Regions from separate parts of the Homo sapiens genome. Here region 1 is linked to region 2. A link means that fine-mapping ties the variant in region 2 to the expression of a gene that starts in the linked region. Tissue or cell type: whole blood. Region 2 holds a variant in brackets; the other region holds the start of a gene. All regions are shown on one strand. Distances are between the middles of the regions.

Region 1 (7,825 bases), 67 kb after region 2:
TCCTGCCTCAGCCTCCCGAGTAGCTGGGATTAAAGGCGTGTGCCACCACACCTGGCTAATTTTTGTATTTTTGGTAGAGAAGGGATTTCCCCATGTTGGTCAGGCTGGTCTCGAATTCCTGATCTCAAATGATCCTCCCGCCTTGGCCTCCCAAAGTGCTAGGATTATAGGAGTGAGCCACTGTGCCCGGCCTAAAAGTTTCTTAAATCCCAAATGTATGAGACTTTTCTAGTTAACTTTTTGTTATTTTTCTACTTTAATTGCACTAGGTCCAAGAATACACTAATATTATAGTCCTTTAAAACTTGTTGAGATTTGGCTGGGCAGGGTGGCTCACACCTGTAATTCCAGCACTTTGGGAGGCCGAGACAGGCAGATCACCTGAGGTCAGGAGTTCGAGACCAGCCTGACCAACATGGAGACACTCCATCTCTACAGAAAATACAACGTTAGCCGGGCGTGGTGGCTCATGCCTGTAATCCCAGCTACTCGGGAGGCTGAGGCAGGAGAATTGCTTGAACCCGGGAGACGGAGGTTGTAGTGAACCGAGATCACGCCATTGCACTCCAGCCTGAGCAACAAGAGCGAAACTCCATCTCAAAAAAACAAAACAAAACAAAAAAAACCACTTGTTGAGATTTGCCTTATAGCTAAGTACATGGTCAATTTTTGTAAATGTTCCATGAGTGCTTGAAGACAACATATTCTACAACTGTTGGGTGCAGTGTTATGTCTATTAGGTCAAATTTCTTAATCAGGTTGACAGGTCTTCATATTCTATTGATTCCTAAAAGGAGATGTGTTAAAATCTCCAGTCTCCCTACCAGGAAAGCCTTTCCTCCTCACCTCAGTCCACGTTATTCACGATAAGCAAAATGTTACGTGGCCTTTGCAGACCCAGCCCTTACCCTAATGCAACTGACAACCTCAGAAGACTTCCCTGGTCACCAACACCTCCCCAACCCCACCTCATACCTGGCACTCCTTCTTCCTCCTCTGAGCTCTTACAGCATTCACTGTCTATACAAACAATTTGACACTTACATAATTTGTCTTCATCACAATTATTTGAGTTGATAATTTACTCCTGTCAGGTTTTAAATTCCACATGGGTAAAGATTATCTTATTTTTCTTTTATAACAGTTTTATTGGAATATAGTTATTGACATACCATAAAATTCACTCTTTAAAAGCATACAGTTCAATGGGAAACTATCTTATTTATTCTGGCATCGTCTATAGCTGTGGTTCTCAGTCTTGGGTGCACACTGGAATTACTGGAAGAGCTTTAAAAAATCCTTCAGTCTGGAAAAAAAAATCCTTCAGTCTGGATCTCCCCTTCAGAGGTTCTGGCTTAATTGGTTTGGGGTGTGGCCTGGGGATGGGAACTTTTTTAAGCTCCTAGGATGATTTTAACTTGTAGCCGGGGTTGCCCTAGAGTGCTCTGTTCATAGCAGGCACCCAAGAACTGTCTGTTGTAATCATCAATTAGCTTTAACTTCTAGTATCCAGTTAATTAACTCACTCAAAAGTGGCCGTCTGTCTCCCCAATAGCCCATCAGCTCTTATCACATAATGGTCTGCTTATATCTGTCTCCCCAACTCAGCAGGAAAGGAACACTATGAGACAAAAGCATGTAGAAAAGGTAAGTTCACTTGCAAAGATGTGCAGACTTAGTAGGACTGGATCACTGAATAAGAAATACAACAGATATTAGACCGCGAGCGGTGGCTCACGCTATAGGCGTGAGCACGTGAGCACTTTGGGAGGCCGAGGCGGGTGTATCACGAGGTCAGGAGTTTCGAGACCAGCCTGGCCAAGTTGGTGAAACCCTGTCTCTACTAAAAATACAAAGATTAGCTGGGCGCGGTGGCGGGCGCCTGCCCCAGCTACTCGGGAGGCTGAGGCAGGAGAATCGCTTGAATCCGGGAGAGGGAGGTTGCAGTGAGCCAAGATTGCGCCACTGCACTCTAGCCTGGGCGACAAAGTAAGACTCCGTCTCAAAAAAAAAAAAAAAAAAAAAGAGAGAGAGAAAGAAATACAATAGATATTAAAGGAAAAAATGTAAAGGAAAAATTACCACATTTACATTTGTCTTTTCAGCATAGATGACATGCTCACGTTGAGGAATGTGTGTCACAAGAATTGTGTGTGACATATCCCCAAATTTCCACATTCAAAAGTCAGGGATAATATGGTATTCATCCGGGAATCAGTAACTCATGGGAAAAGCTCAAGATGTCATTCACTTTGGAGACCAGATGTAAAGGAGTAGTATGGGTACTTTGTCTCAGGGTGGAAAGTGTCTGTTATGGTTTTCTTCCTTCCCATGGGACTTGTTGCACACTCTTACAATGGCGGCAGGACCGGCACGCTTGCTTGCACAGCTGTGAGCTGCATGAAGGCAGGGATGGTTTTGGTCTTATCCGTTATGGCATCCCCTTGTGGCAAGTTAGGTGTTCAATAAATATCGGTGGAATGCATGTGATTACACTTCATGCCACAGTATATAAATATGATTTTAACTGGACAGGGAACTGCAAAAGTTTCCCATATTGATCCTTTTTGCAATCTTAATTATGGTACTCTGAGCTGGGATATTGCCTAAACTGTCTGGGCTACAACAAACTCTGAAGGGGCTTTTACTTCCACGTCCATAGTGGTTGAGGGTTCGCGTTGTGTGAACGCTGGAGCCTCACGTGAGTAGCTGAGTAGCGAGGATGGTCACTCCCAGATAAACGAATACAGGATTCTCGCGGCTGGGAGCGGTCGCCCGGCGAGGTCGGTCATTCTGCCTGTCCGGTAGCACCACGAAACACCTGCCACTGACACCTCCCCACCAGCCCCCGAGGGTTCGCGCAGGCATCCCGAGCCGCGCCCCCTGGTCCGCCGCAGCCAGATTCCCTCCCGGGCGGGTTACGCCCCTAGGCGCAAAACGGAACCACTCCGTATGAAGAAGACAAAGTATAACCAGTCACACCAAAGAGAGGCAGCATTATTTAGACAGCCGGCTACTCCCCCAGAGACTCCACCCAGTCCCCTGGGCCCGGCGTCCAGCGCGCAGACGGTGCCCGGCTCCAGGAGTTCCAGCTCCCTCCACGTGTCCTGTCTTCCCAGCAGCCTCCTCTGCCGCCTCGGGAGGAAAATCTCCTGACAACTCGCGGTCTGCGGACTACGACTCCCAGGAGGCGCCGCGCCGCGGCTCTCCCCGCCCCCCCCCGCCCCCCCCCCCCTCCCCGGGACGCGCAGGCGCCTTGGGCTCCGTCAACAAGCCGGGCTGGCGTCGCCTGGATGCGGTTTCTTCCGGGATTTGTAGTTTTTCTGGAGCTACCCGGGCCGTCTGTTAGAGGGACAAGAACTACAAGTCTCGGCTGCCCCAGCGCTGCGAGCCTGGTCACGTGGCGGGGGCCGACCGGGCGTGCGTGCCGCCGTTGATCCGGTGCTGCAGTGAGGAGGTGGTTCTTGCCCGTGTTGTGTGTGTGTGTGAGTGAGAGAGCGAGTGAGTGAGTGAGTGAGTGTGTGTGTGGGGGGGACTCGGCTTGTTGTTGTCGGTGACTTCCCCCTCCCCTTCACCCCTTCCCCTCCCCGCCGCCGCTGCAGTGGCCGCTCCCTGGGCCGTAGGAAATGAGCGATAACGATGACATCGAGGTGGAGAGCGACGTGAGTCCTGGGGCTTCTTCCTTCCCGTGCGGGTTGTCAGGCGGGGACAGCGGCCGGGGCTCTTAGCGGGGCGACGGCGGGAGGGGGCCGGGCTGCCGCCGCCTCCTTCCCCTTCCCCTCGGGGCCAGGAGTGCCTCCGTCGCGTTCCCGGTTCGCTCCCCTCCGGCTCCTGGCCGGAGCGGCCTCCTGGGACTGGAGGTTGGGGGAAGACACGCGGCTTCTGGGACCCCCACCTCCTCCCTTGCGGGAGGGTGCTGCGGCCTCCCGCTCCCACCTTCCCCGGCTCAGGATCCGGGGGACAAGGATGGGGGGCGCCCGGGATCCCATTGTCCGGATCCAGGGGAAGGGGACGGCGTTCAGGACCTGCCCCTTCGGACTGCGATCCTCTCCTCCCGTGACCCGCGGATCCTGGGGGCCGGGGAAGGGCGGAGAGGGGTTGGGGGTGCCTAGATGCCCGAGCTGGGTCTGCAGGGAGGAGACAGTGCTCGGGACCCCTCTGGCCCAGGTCGGATCCCGGAAGGAGGGGCGGCGCTCGGGACCCCTCTACCCTGCTACCGGATCCCGCCGAGGGTGGAAGGGTGGGGGCAAGGGGTGGGGAGGGAGGAAGGGGTGTCGGGCTGACTCCCCACCCTCCGCTTCCTCTGCCGCCGGCATTTTCTTTCTTATTATTGAATGTTAAGTGTAAAAATAACTTCTATATTTTCTATTTTTTTTTTTCTCTCTTATTCCAGGAAGAGCAACCGAGGTTTCAATCTGCGGTACGTCTCCTACTCTCCATTTCATTTTTATTTCCGTTCAGTTCTATTCCTTTTTGGGGTCAGAGAGAAAAAGAGATCGTACTATTACTTTTAATATTGTAGTAAACTCTAATGTTAACCACTAAGGTGAGGTGGGGCCTGGTTCTGGAGGGTGGGGGGGTTGCAAATCCCATTATTCTAGATTCTCAGGTGATAAGTTCAGTGATTCTAGGTGAGTAAGAGGAGCTGTATGCAAAGAATTGAATTGTTCTGTAGTTTTCAGATAGGGGATCCAGATGCCACTATGTAAGTGGAAATGAGAAATGCAGCATTCTGGTCTGGTAGTATTATTTCAGGGCAAAGTGGTCAGAAGATTTATTTAGGAACAAGTAGGTTTTAAACCATATCTGTATAATTGTGTGAAGCTGAAGCCACATGCGGTAATCGCCTTTAACCAAGTCATGTGACTGCTATAGACCCGTAGAATCTAGCACAACATGGTATTCTAATGCAAAAATTGGAAATGTAGAGGAGCCAAACGTTACATCATCAAAGTGTCACATAAAGTTATTATGGTCTGATTCTCTGTATTTGAAGAAAAGGTATAAAGAAAATTAAAAAATAGCTGAAGAAAAGTGGCATTGCAGAGACAGCTTTGCTGAAAGGTGATGGATGAGACCATAGAGTGTTATCAATAATTTCTTAGGGTTTTGATATTAATGTTCTCAGTAGATGGTTCTGTGGATTTAGATAAGCACTAATTCCATGTCTTTGGAGTCTGAGACAGTAATATGGATGTTTCATGAATAGATTTGAGGGAAAAAAGAATACACACAGAATAAATCAGAATCAGCGAGGGGAAGAGAAATAAGTATATCAGAGTGTCTAATATTTGATAGTTGGGAGCAGTAAGAAATGTATAGAATGGGGGTAAAAAGTTCAAATGCCCATGAGGGCCATAAAGAATAAAGAAGGAAGAGGTGAGGGCTTGGGTACTGGAGAGCAGTGCCTCTTCTAAAAAGTCAGCACTACTGAACTCCAGTGGTTTGTTAGTAGGAGTGAAGGGTCAGTATTGCCAGATCTTCCTATTTTTAATTTTATTTTATTTATTTATTTTTGAGACAGAGTCTCACTCTGTCACCAGGCTGGAGTGCAATGGCGCTATCTCGGCTTACTGCAACCTCCGCCTCCTGGGTTCAAGCGATTCTCTTGCCTCAGCCTCCCGAATAGCTGGGACTACAGGCGCGTGCCACCACACCCAGCTAATTTTTGTATTTTTAGTAGAGACGGGGTTTCACCATGTTGGCCAGGCTGGTCTCGATCTCTTAACCTCGTGATCTGCCAGCCTCGGCCTCCCAAAGTGCTGGGATTACAGGCATGAGCCACCACGCCCAGCCGATCTTCCTATTTTTTAAGAAAGATTAGAAATCTAAAACTTTATGTTATTTTTCTGATTTTTAAAATGATGTGTGGAACAACTGTTTGGGGGCTTGTTAGAATTTGCAGGATGTCACTTTGATACCTCTGGTATAAGAACTTGATAACCACAGGGTAAAGGCAAGCCATCTCAGTTATACCTGCTCTTCATTAGAGCAAGCAAAGATTGTGCAGGTTGTCTAAGCAGATAGGCATTAAGAAAACTTATTTATTGAGAGCTGATATTTCCATAAAATCCGGGGATGTAGTTGTTCCAAAAGTCTTAAAAATTATCCCTGGGTAATAGTCATTAAAGATAATTTGTTTTATTTTATTTATCCTTGAAGTATTCTCATATACTTATGCATATATTTGAAAATTGAATTCCTTTTTCACATTTACTTTTATCCTTCATGTTTGGGGCCTAGTCTGTTGAAAACTTTTTTTTTCCCTGCAAGTCTCCAGTTGTAAAATCTGTGCTAGGGCTTGATCAGAGCTGGAGGGTAAGGATCGTTTAGCCTTCCTTTGCAGAATTATCCTTTGAATTGAAATTATACTGACTTCCCAGTAAGAGAAAGTTGTGTTTTTTTTGTTTGTTTGTTTGTTTGTTTGTTTTTTTGGTGAAATTTTGGCTCGCAGTTCTTGAAAGCTTTCTGCTTTTCAAAATTTTCATCCATATGATCGTTGATATAAATTTGTTATTAAATTATTATAATGTTTCTGCTTTCCTGGAATGCTAATCTCATTGTTTTGTCTAGATGTTTTTAGTTTGCTGTTAAGGTGCCTAGGATTTTTCCTTTTGATTTTGGGGGTAGGCAAAGGAAGTTGGTTTGACACTTTGTTTTTAATTTAACACATCTATTTGTTGATATTTCTAAATATTACTCTGCACAATGTAATTACAACAGCATGGAGAGAAAAAGCAGATATGTTATAAACAAATTTTATAGTATATCAAACAACTATTGTGACTGTGTAGGGTAAAAAGGATTCCATTTTTTCCCCTCTGTGAATGCATCTGCTTACTTCTCAATATTTAATATGGATAATAAATATATTTTTTAAAATTTAAGAGGGAGCTATTCTTAAGTTTTGCCTTAGAAAAAAGGTTTAAAAAAAGATGTGGACTGTGAACAACCAAATACTTAGGTATTCAGGACTACAGAAGATGTTGAAAAAGTTATTTGAAAAGGGTTCTGTGGATCCTAATATAAAAACATTCATGTATGTTTTATAATGTCACTACAATATATAGGCCTTACTACATGAGAAATGTAAGATACTGAGAAGAGAGTTAGGAAGTTAGGCTAACTCTAACAGAAAGTGAAACTGATTTGGCAAATATTTTTTTCTATTGCTTCAGTACAAACGGAAAACAGCTTCTCCAATGGCCAGTAAGCTTTGTTAAAGGAAGTAACCCCAAAGAGTATTCTTACTACTAAATTCAGTACATCGCAAAATCCCACTGATGTTATTTTTATTATATTTTGGAGGGAAGAGGTTGCATTTTAAAGATAAATTTGTGGGACAGGTATATTATATTGCAAGGGCTTCCTTTTGCTTTATTTCTGTTTGGGAAATTTCTTTAGGAAAGAGTGTAAGTATACAGGAAATGTATGGGTTAGTGTGTTGGTCAGGAAATGCAATTTTTTTTCCAGTGACCATCCTTGATGGCACCTGACTGAGTTGCAGTTGCAGTATACTTGTGAGGGGTTTGAAAACAGATTTGTGCAATTCCACTTCTGGACCTTTCTGGCATGAAATATTTTTAACTTCTCAGAGCTCTTTGCTTCTTTAGGAATATTCAGAAGAGAACGAGCTTGGTAGCCTCCGAGATTGGAATTCACTCAGGAAACTACTGTCTGTTTTACCTGCAGTCAGTTGCATGGCAAAAGTGCTGCACAATGCATGTACTTTTTCTCTGCTTAGAGTGTTGACAGTGATGCTTACAGTGATAACAAATGCCAGAGTTAGTTCCTAAATGTGCCTGTGTTAGGGTAAAAGTTGTTC
Region 2 (7,825 bases):
TATCAATCTGTCCCATTTGTCCCTTGCGATGTTAACTTTGATCATTTGATTCAGGTGGGGATTATCAGTCCTCTCTACTGTAAAGTTATTATTTTTCTCTTTGAAATCAATAGGTGTTTTATGAGGATCTACTTTGAGATTGTGTAAATACACTGTTTCTCATCAAATTTTTACCCACTAGTTTTAACATCCCTTGATAATTCTTGCCTGAATCATTAATGACTCTAAGGTTTACCAAATGGTCATTTTCTAATTTTATCATTTCTTATACCTATATTAGTTGTAATTTTACTCTAAGGAAAGCCTTTTTCTTTTTCTCCATTTATTTATTTGCTTATATTAATATGGACTTAGATTTTCACATTTTATCCAATTTATTATTATTATTATTTTAGATGAAGTCTCCCTTTTGTCATCCAGACTGGAGTGCAGTGGTGTGATCTCGGCTCACTGCAGCCTCCGCTTCCTGGGTTCAAGCAATTCTCCCGCCTCAGCCTCCCGAGTAGCTGGGAAAACAGGTGCTCACCACCATGCCCAGCTAATTTTTGTATTTTTAGTAGAGATGGAGTTTCACCGTGTTGGCCAGGCTGGTCTCGAACTCCTGACCTCAGGTGATCCACCCGCCTTGGCCTCCCAAAATGCTGGGATTACAGGCATGAGCCACCGTGCCCAGTTGATTATTATTATTATTTTTTAAAAGTTCAGATTGTCCAAGATTTGAATGGGAGCTCCTTCCAGCTTCTTCTTCTTCTTCTTCTTTTTTTTTTTTTTTTTATTGAAACAGGGTATCTTTTACTACATAGCACAGGCTGGAGTGCAGAGTGGCTATTTACAGAGGTGATCATGGCTCACTGCAGCCTCAAACTCTTGGGTTCAAGCAATCCTCCCACCTCAGCCTCCTGACTAGCTGGGACTACAGGTGCATGTTACTGCCCCCCAGCTAGGGTTATTTTTGAAGGTGGATTCTCCAAAACTCTGGTCCAGGCTATTTCTCCAAATTATGAATGTTTAAACAGCATTCAAGAATCTAATTTTTAACATTATGAGAAAGCACAGCATCTATGCCAGTGAATTTTAGAGTTCCAACGAAATAACAAGATGTTTATTTACATACATTTTATAATCTTCCTAAAGACCAGACTCATTTCCTAAGTGAGGACATGACTTCCTCTCTCTTCTCCCGGTCCTGATGTATGTCCAGTCCATTTCACAGTAGACCTACTGAGGAAGTAGCAGGGTAGAGAGGAGAGTCAGGGAAGTGGGAAGGTGAGAGAGAAGTAGGGAGGAAAAGGAACAGGAGGAGAAAGAACTCCTCTCCTCTCCTCATTTGTTCAGACGGTCTGGCACCTACAGCCTCCTCATGTCCCCCAGCCCCACTGCCCCCTCCTGGAAGTCAGCGCACTGCTGCCGCTGGCATTCACATCGTGTCGGCAGGACGCCGCGTTGTCAGAGGTTAGAGACAGCCACTTTCATCTCAGAAAAGGGGCCGGGAGATGACCTGGGTTATATAGAAGGAACTCAAGTCTTCTTGCCGCAGAAATGCCACTGGAAGGGATGGAGGAGAGAAAACCCGGTTGTATGATGTCTGCATTGCCCTCCTCGCTGGAACTCACCACAGGCTGGAGGTGCTTCCGGCAGAACCGAGCTCCGGGGAAAGCCTGTGATAAATCATCTCTGTCTTTACTAGCCAAGGGTTGCTATGGCAATAGGAATACACTGTAGGTTTTAAGAGATGTAATTTTCTGTGATTCACTGTATATTTTTAGCCATTTTTCCCTCTGTATTATCTCCCTGTGGTAATTGCCTATTAATGCTGGTCTGTACTAAGATTGGACTAAACGGTCGATTCTCAGAAGAGATGAAAACCCTGGAGCTCAGTAAGTACAAGGGGGTGATGGCCCATGAACTTAAGAGTAACCTGGTAGAACAACCAGATTAGTTCAGGACATGGATGAATTCACGTGGCCCATGCTACGTCTGTCTTGGGAGGAGAGTAAAGCAGAGTGAAGGGACCCAGCAATGTGGCTCTGGAGTTTTGGGAATGGGAAGCTGAGTCACACTACCCACTGAAATCCATATGCTCGAATGGTGTCAAGGGCAGGCCACAAAAGTCAGAAACGAGCATCCTGCGCAAGGGACACTAGGACCCAGGTTTCCAAACAAAGGAACTGTAAAAGCTTCTAACCTTTTGTTTTTTTTTTTGTTGTTGTTGTTGTTGTTTTTTTTTTGAGACAGAGTCTCGCTCTGTTGCCCAGGCTGGAGTGCAGTGGTGTGATCTCGGCCCATTGCAAGCTCCACCTCCCAGGTTCATGCCATTCTCCTGCCTCAGCCTCCCGAGCAGCTGGGACTACAGGCGCCCACCACCATGCCCGGCTAATTTCTTTGTGTGTTGTTTTTTTTTTTTTAGTAGAGACGGGGTTTCACCGTGTTAGCCAGGATGGTCTCGATCTCCCGACCTCGTGATTCACCTGCCTCGACCTCCCAAAGTGCTGGGATTACAGACATGAGCCACCGTGCCTGGCCTCTAACCTCTTTTAATTTAGTTCAAGTCTTCTATTGTTTCTTATCTTATCCTTCCTTCTTTATTCCTTTCTTCTTTCTTTCCTTGCTCTAATTTTACTTTTTTTTTTTTTTTTTTTAACCGTAAAATCAGGGGAGAGACTAAGAGGAGGTGAAAACAGAATGTATCTAGTTGCTATTGGTTCATAGTTGTATCAGGGGTCTTTCCATCCAGGCCACAGAAAATCCAGCCTAAACTGCTTAAGCAGAAAGAGAACTTACTCTTTCTCTAATAGCTGAAAAGTCCAGGGGCTTGGGTTTAGTCTCAGGCACAGTTGTATTCAGAAGGCCAGATGACATCATCAACATCTGGGCTGTCTGACACACCACTAAGTTTCACTGATATTTGGGCATTTGGGCTGCAATAACATGAAACTCAGCTAACAGAGGCTTCAACAAAGTGTGGTTTGTTTTTCTCACATAAGAAGTCCAGAGAGAGGTTTATTTTTCTCATTCAACAAGCAGCCCAGAATAGGCATAGATGACGTTACTATGCAGCAGCTCAGTAATGTCATCAAGAACCCAGCCTCCTTCTTCATTTCAGCTCTACTGTCTTCAGGGTCACAGGAGGACAGGTCCAGCTCTAGACATTCAAGGCAGAAAGAAGAGGCTAGCTAACTTCCGATTTTTTTTTTTTTTATCCAGAAAAGTAAATCAATCCCCAAAGTTCCCAGCTGACCTCTGCTTCCAGTTGATTGAATACATCAGTGCCATGAGGCCACTTTAGCCACAGAGGAGGCTGGGAAAGTACGTTTTTAAGCTTTTTTGGTCCCTGCAGTAGAAGCAGTGTTTTTTGTTTGGTTTGGTTTTGCCTCATATAACAGTCAAAGAACAAACCGTACCCAAGATTGTGAAAGGGTTCTGCCTCTTCCTTGCAGTCTGACCAGTCACTC[C/T]GTTGTCATATCCTAGCCAAGAAGGGAGAAGGTATAAGAGAAGGGCAAGAAGCTTTCTTTTAAGGATGCAATGCATAAGTTGCATTCATCACTTCTCTTCTGCCCATATGCTATTGGTCAGAACATAACCACATGATCACAACCAGCTGTAAGGGTGGCTGGGAAATGTAGTACTTGGGTAGCCATGTGCCCAGCTAAAACTTGAGGAGTTCTGTTAGTCACATGATGAAGAAGAGGGGTATTTTGAAACAACTAGCAATCTCCTCAGGTGTAGTTAGAGCTCCATGATGTGCTCACTTCACATTGCATGCCTGTATCAAAACATCTTATCTACCCCATAAATATATACACCTACTATATACCCACAAACATTTTTTAAAAATAAAATAAAACAAAAATAAATTAAAAAATAAAAAAGAGCAGTTATAGGAGAAAGGGTTTGGATGGCTATTAGATTCACTCATTCAAGGCCAAATATTTCTGCCTCTGCCACATTCTCAGAGAGGCTTACCTTTGTGCAGGTAAGACAGCTTCAGCATCACCAGCCTCACATTCTCCCTGGTCCAAGACCATTAGTAAAAGAGCTCAACATCTTCGCAGCTACCCTGGGCAGTCTCACCACATCTCCTTGGTTCTTACTGGGTCACCTGCCCATCATTAACTAAGGGGATGCAATGCAATACTCTGGTCATTCCTGAATGACTTGCTCCACAAAATCACCAAGATCTTTCTGGGCCTCAGTTTGCTCATCTGTAAACTAAACATAATAAAACCTACCTCACAGGGTTGGTGGGAGAGTGCTGCTGGGGGACTCAGGCTGAGCTGGGGGTCATTGTCCATACATGCATTTCAGTTTGCCTACTGACCAGACTCACCTTAACAATATCATTTCAAAAAACAAGACCCTCTAAAATCAAAGTAATCATCAGTGGATAGTTAGCCTAGATCTCATCTTATAATATATTCCAAAGTAAAAATACTTGCTAGGTACCTGGCACTGTGCTAAGCACTTTGCATACCTTCTATCAAAACTCTCAAAGTAATTCCATGGGAGAGATACTTTCACTGTTTTCAATTAACAGACAAGAGTGGTGATGGGTGCCTGTAATCCCAGCTACTCGGGAGGCTGAGGCACAAGAATCACTTGAACCTGGGAGGCAGAAGTTCCAGTGAGTCGAGATCACACCACCGCACTCCAGCCTGGGTGACAAAGCAAGACTCTTAAAAAAACAAACGAATAAACAAACAAAAATAAACGAGTAAATAAACAAAAGGGATAAGGAAATTTAGCTCCTTGCCTAAGGTCACAGCCAGCACAGTGATGGAGCCACAAAGCCAGGACTAACTTTGAACCCCCACAATCTCCTCCCTCTTATTGTATAAAAATAAGTAAAAATAACCACATATTTATGAAATCACGAAAACCTTCCTGCTGATTGTGGTGGTCACAAGAAAGCACCTTTTGATGCAGGACAGATGAACCTCCAAATTGGGGCTTAGCCCAGGAAGGTTCTTGGCTTTGCCGAGGAGAAAATTCAAGGGCAAGCCAATGGTGTTGAACAGCCTTTGATGAAAGCGCCCAGTGCACAGGAGCAGCAGAGGTACTGCTCCTTGCAGAACAGGGCTACCCTATAGGCAGTGGGCCCAGAGTAACAGCTCAGAGGAAGTTCTGCACTCATTTTTATGCCTGCTCTGAATTGTATGCAAATTAAGGGGTGGTTTATGCAGAAATTTCTAGAAAAGAGGTGGTAACTTCTAGGTTGTCAAGTCATTGCCACAGAAAGGGGTGGGAACTTCTGGGTGTTGCCATGGTAATGGTAAACTGACAGGGCACAGTGATGGGCGTGTCTTATGGGGTGGTGCTTCTGCCCTGGACTTGTTTTAGTTAGTCCCCAATTTGGTCCAGTATCTGAACCCTGCCTTCAAAGTAAAGTCTCACCTCCTACCTCACTTTGATCTCCCTTTGAGAGAACCTGCTACCAGGAGTAGCAGGATGACAGCCTTACACTATGGATCCTTTGGGCTCCCTGCAGCCTTCACACTGAGGCCTCCCCCTCCCTGGGCACAACAGATGTACTACAGCCAGGCCAGTCCTGTCCAGTGGCAACTCCTCTGTTCTTGGGCTTCCCATAAGCCTGGCTGTGGCTTTCTTGGAGCTATGCTGTAGTCTAGATTCTTCCTACCCAACTCTCTTTCCTTTCCACTCTCCTTCAGCAAGTGCCAGGCCTGCACTGCTGCCTGAGGGCTGTCCTCACCACTCCTGCTCCCACACCCTATATCCTTCACATACATTCTCCCCCGTGCATTTATGCTCTGCCTAATTCCATCTTGGCATGTGTTTCTCAGAGGACCTGAAATGACACACTTCTTGTACCTCCCTTAACTCACAACATGAACTACATCACAGGCTTTTATGTTTCCAAAGATTTTTGAGTGTTAAAGAATAAGAAAGCAATAAAAATAATAATTCAAAATTGGGCTGTAGGGAAGATCTAATGTGGTCCAATAAAGAGGCTCCTAGCCTGGCACTTAAAAGGTAGAGACTCCTTCTTGAAGCAAGTTTCTGCATAGAGAGAAAAACAATAATCATTGCTGATCTTAAAAGAAACCTAGCTGCATTGGGCATTTTGGATGGAGAGGGTTAGAGGCATCTGAGACTTGCCTGGAGTCACTCCACAGGGTCACAGATAGATTTCAATCATTCTAATCCTCATCCAGAAGCTTCAAATGCTCCTGAGACAAGGAATTGATCCTTTAGCGAAAGAGCGAAGAATGCTACTTAACTCAGCCAAAGAAAAATAATGATCAATTGAGCAAAATGTACTGGCTTTAGACAAGGATCTCCAAACTGAAATGGAATTACTCTTGTTGCCCCTGGGAACACAAACCATGTGCCACAACTACGCTGCCCTGCCCTGCCTCATCCTACCTTAAGGCTTTTTCAGGGGTTACTAACTAGTAGCCACAGAGCAATGTGTCCTACAAACATGTTTTATCTGGTCCCTGTGGTCTTTTTTTACACAATATAAATTAGTTAAGATTTATCAAGTGAGATATTTCACATAAAAAATCTGGACTTCATGCTTCTTTTGGAAAATCAGAAAATCTGACAATATCAGCCCTACATGTGAACTTCCTGCCTCAAACAGAACCAGAATCTCTACTACTCCTCTCCTATTAAACTCCTATTAAACATGCTGGCTTTAACATGCTCAGGACCATAAACCTACTTGATTTTGAGCACTCAGATTCAGATCATGAGCCCTGGGTAGCACTTGGCTGAAGTTAACTGTCAGCTCTTTAAGAAAAATGAGTTAGTAACAATTTTTTTTTTTTTTTTGAGATGGAGTCTTGCTCTGCCACCTAGGCTGGAATGCAATGGTGCGATCTCAGCTCACTGCAACCTCCACCTCCCGGCTTCAAGTGATTCTCCTGCCTCAGCCTCCCAAGTAGCTGAGATTACAGGCACCTGCCATCATGCCCAGCTAATTTTTGTATTTTTGTAGAGATGGGGTTTCACCATGTTGGCCAGGCTGGCCTTGAACTCCTGACCTCAGGTGATCCACCCACCTCGGCCTCCCAAAGTGCTGGGATTACAGGCATGAGCCGCCGCCACTGCACCTGGCCACTAAATAAATTAATAGCATAAACAGGATTTCAAGAAGGAATTTCTTTTTTTTTTTTTTTGAGACAGAGTCTCGCTCTGTCGCCCAGGCTGGAGTACAGTGGTGCAATCTCAGCTCACTGCAAGCTCCGCCTCCTGGGTTCACGCCTGAGGCTCCTGCCTCAGCCTCCCGAGTAGCTGGGACTACAGGCATCTGCCACCACGCCCAGCTAATTTTTCTGTATTTTTAGTAGAGACCCGGTTTCACCATGTTAGCCAGGCTGGTCTCGATCTCCTGACCTCATGATCCGCCCGCCTCGGCCTCCCAAAGTGCTGGGATTACAGGCATGAGCCACCGCACCTGGCTGGAATTTCTTAAAAACTAGTCTTCAAGCACTTAAGTAAGAATGACAGCCATGATTAGCACGGCTGGAAGGTTTGTCAGCACTGACAGCTGGGGACAGGTGTCCCTCGTCAGAGGCAGAGACCCTGGGTTGGAGGAGGTGGGACTTCTGTCCTGGCTTTGTCCTTACTAGTTACACAACCTTGAGCATTGCCTTCACCCTCAGGTCAGGTGCCTGGTGTTGTAAGAGCTAACAGTGCCTAAGTGTTTTACTACCTGAAAAGCAGTCTATTAAGTGTTTTGTATGCATCCTCTCTTTTCATTCCACACCATGTCCTGACGCCATGTACCAGTATTATCCCTAAAGCACAGGAAGGTTTTGTGACCTGTCCAAAGTCAGAGAGTCAGTTGGAGCTCAGATGCTTT

Alleles and levels. Alleles are on the strand shown, and positions count from the first base shown. SD is a standard deviation of normalised expression in the study named.
As copies of T replace C in region 2, the expression in whole blood of the gene that starts at base 3,449 in region 1 goes up (small effect, 0.25 SD a copy in GTEx).

The links. PIP is the estimated chance that this variant, and not a neighbour inherited with it, causes the effect.
Region 1: it holds the start of MAX, and the variant in region 2 is fine-mapped to the expression of MAX in whole blood (GTEx, PIP 0.98).

What each region holds. Positions count from the first base shown.
Region 1 is chr14:65,098,141-65,105,965 of GRCh38, reverse strand. MAX (MYC associated factor X) reads left to right here and starts at 3,449. Exons shown (of 5, transcript NM_002382.5): 1 at 3,449-3,662; 2 at 4,394-4,420. The coding sequence starts at 3,627. RefSeq lists enhancers at 3,035-3,184, 3,878-4,378 and a silencer at 3,515-3,864.
Region 2 is chr14:65,164,705-65,172,529 of GRCh38, reverse strand. No RefSeq gene overlaps it. Among named protein-coding and RNA genes, the nearest start is that of LINC02324, 54 kb to the left of the region's middle. RefSeq lists enhancers at 1,371-1,540, 1,561-1,620, 3,184-3,283. The variant C/T (reference allele first, on the strand shown) is at 3,453.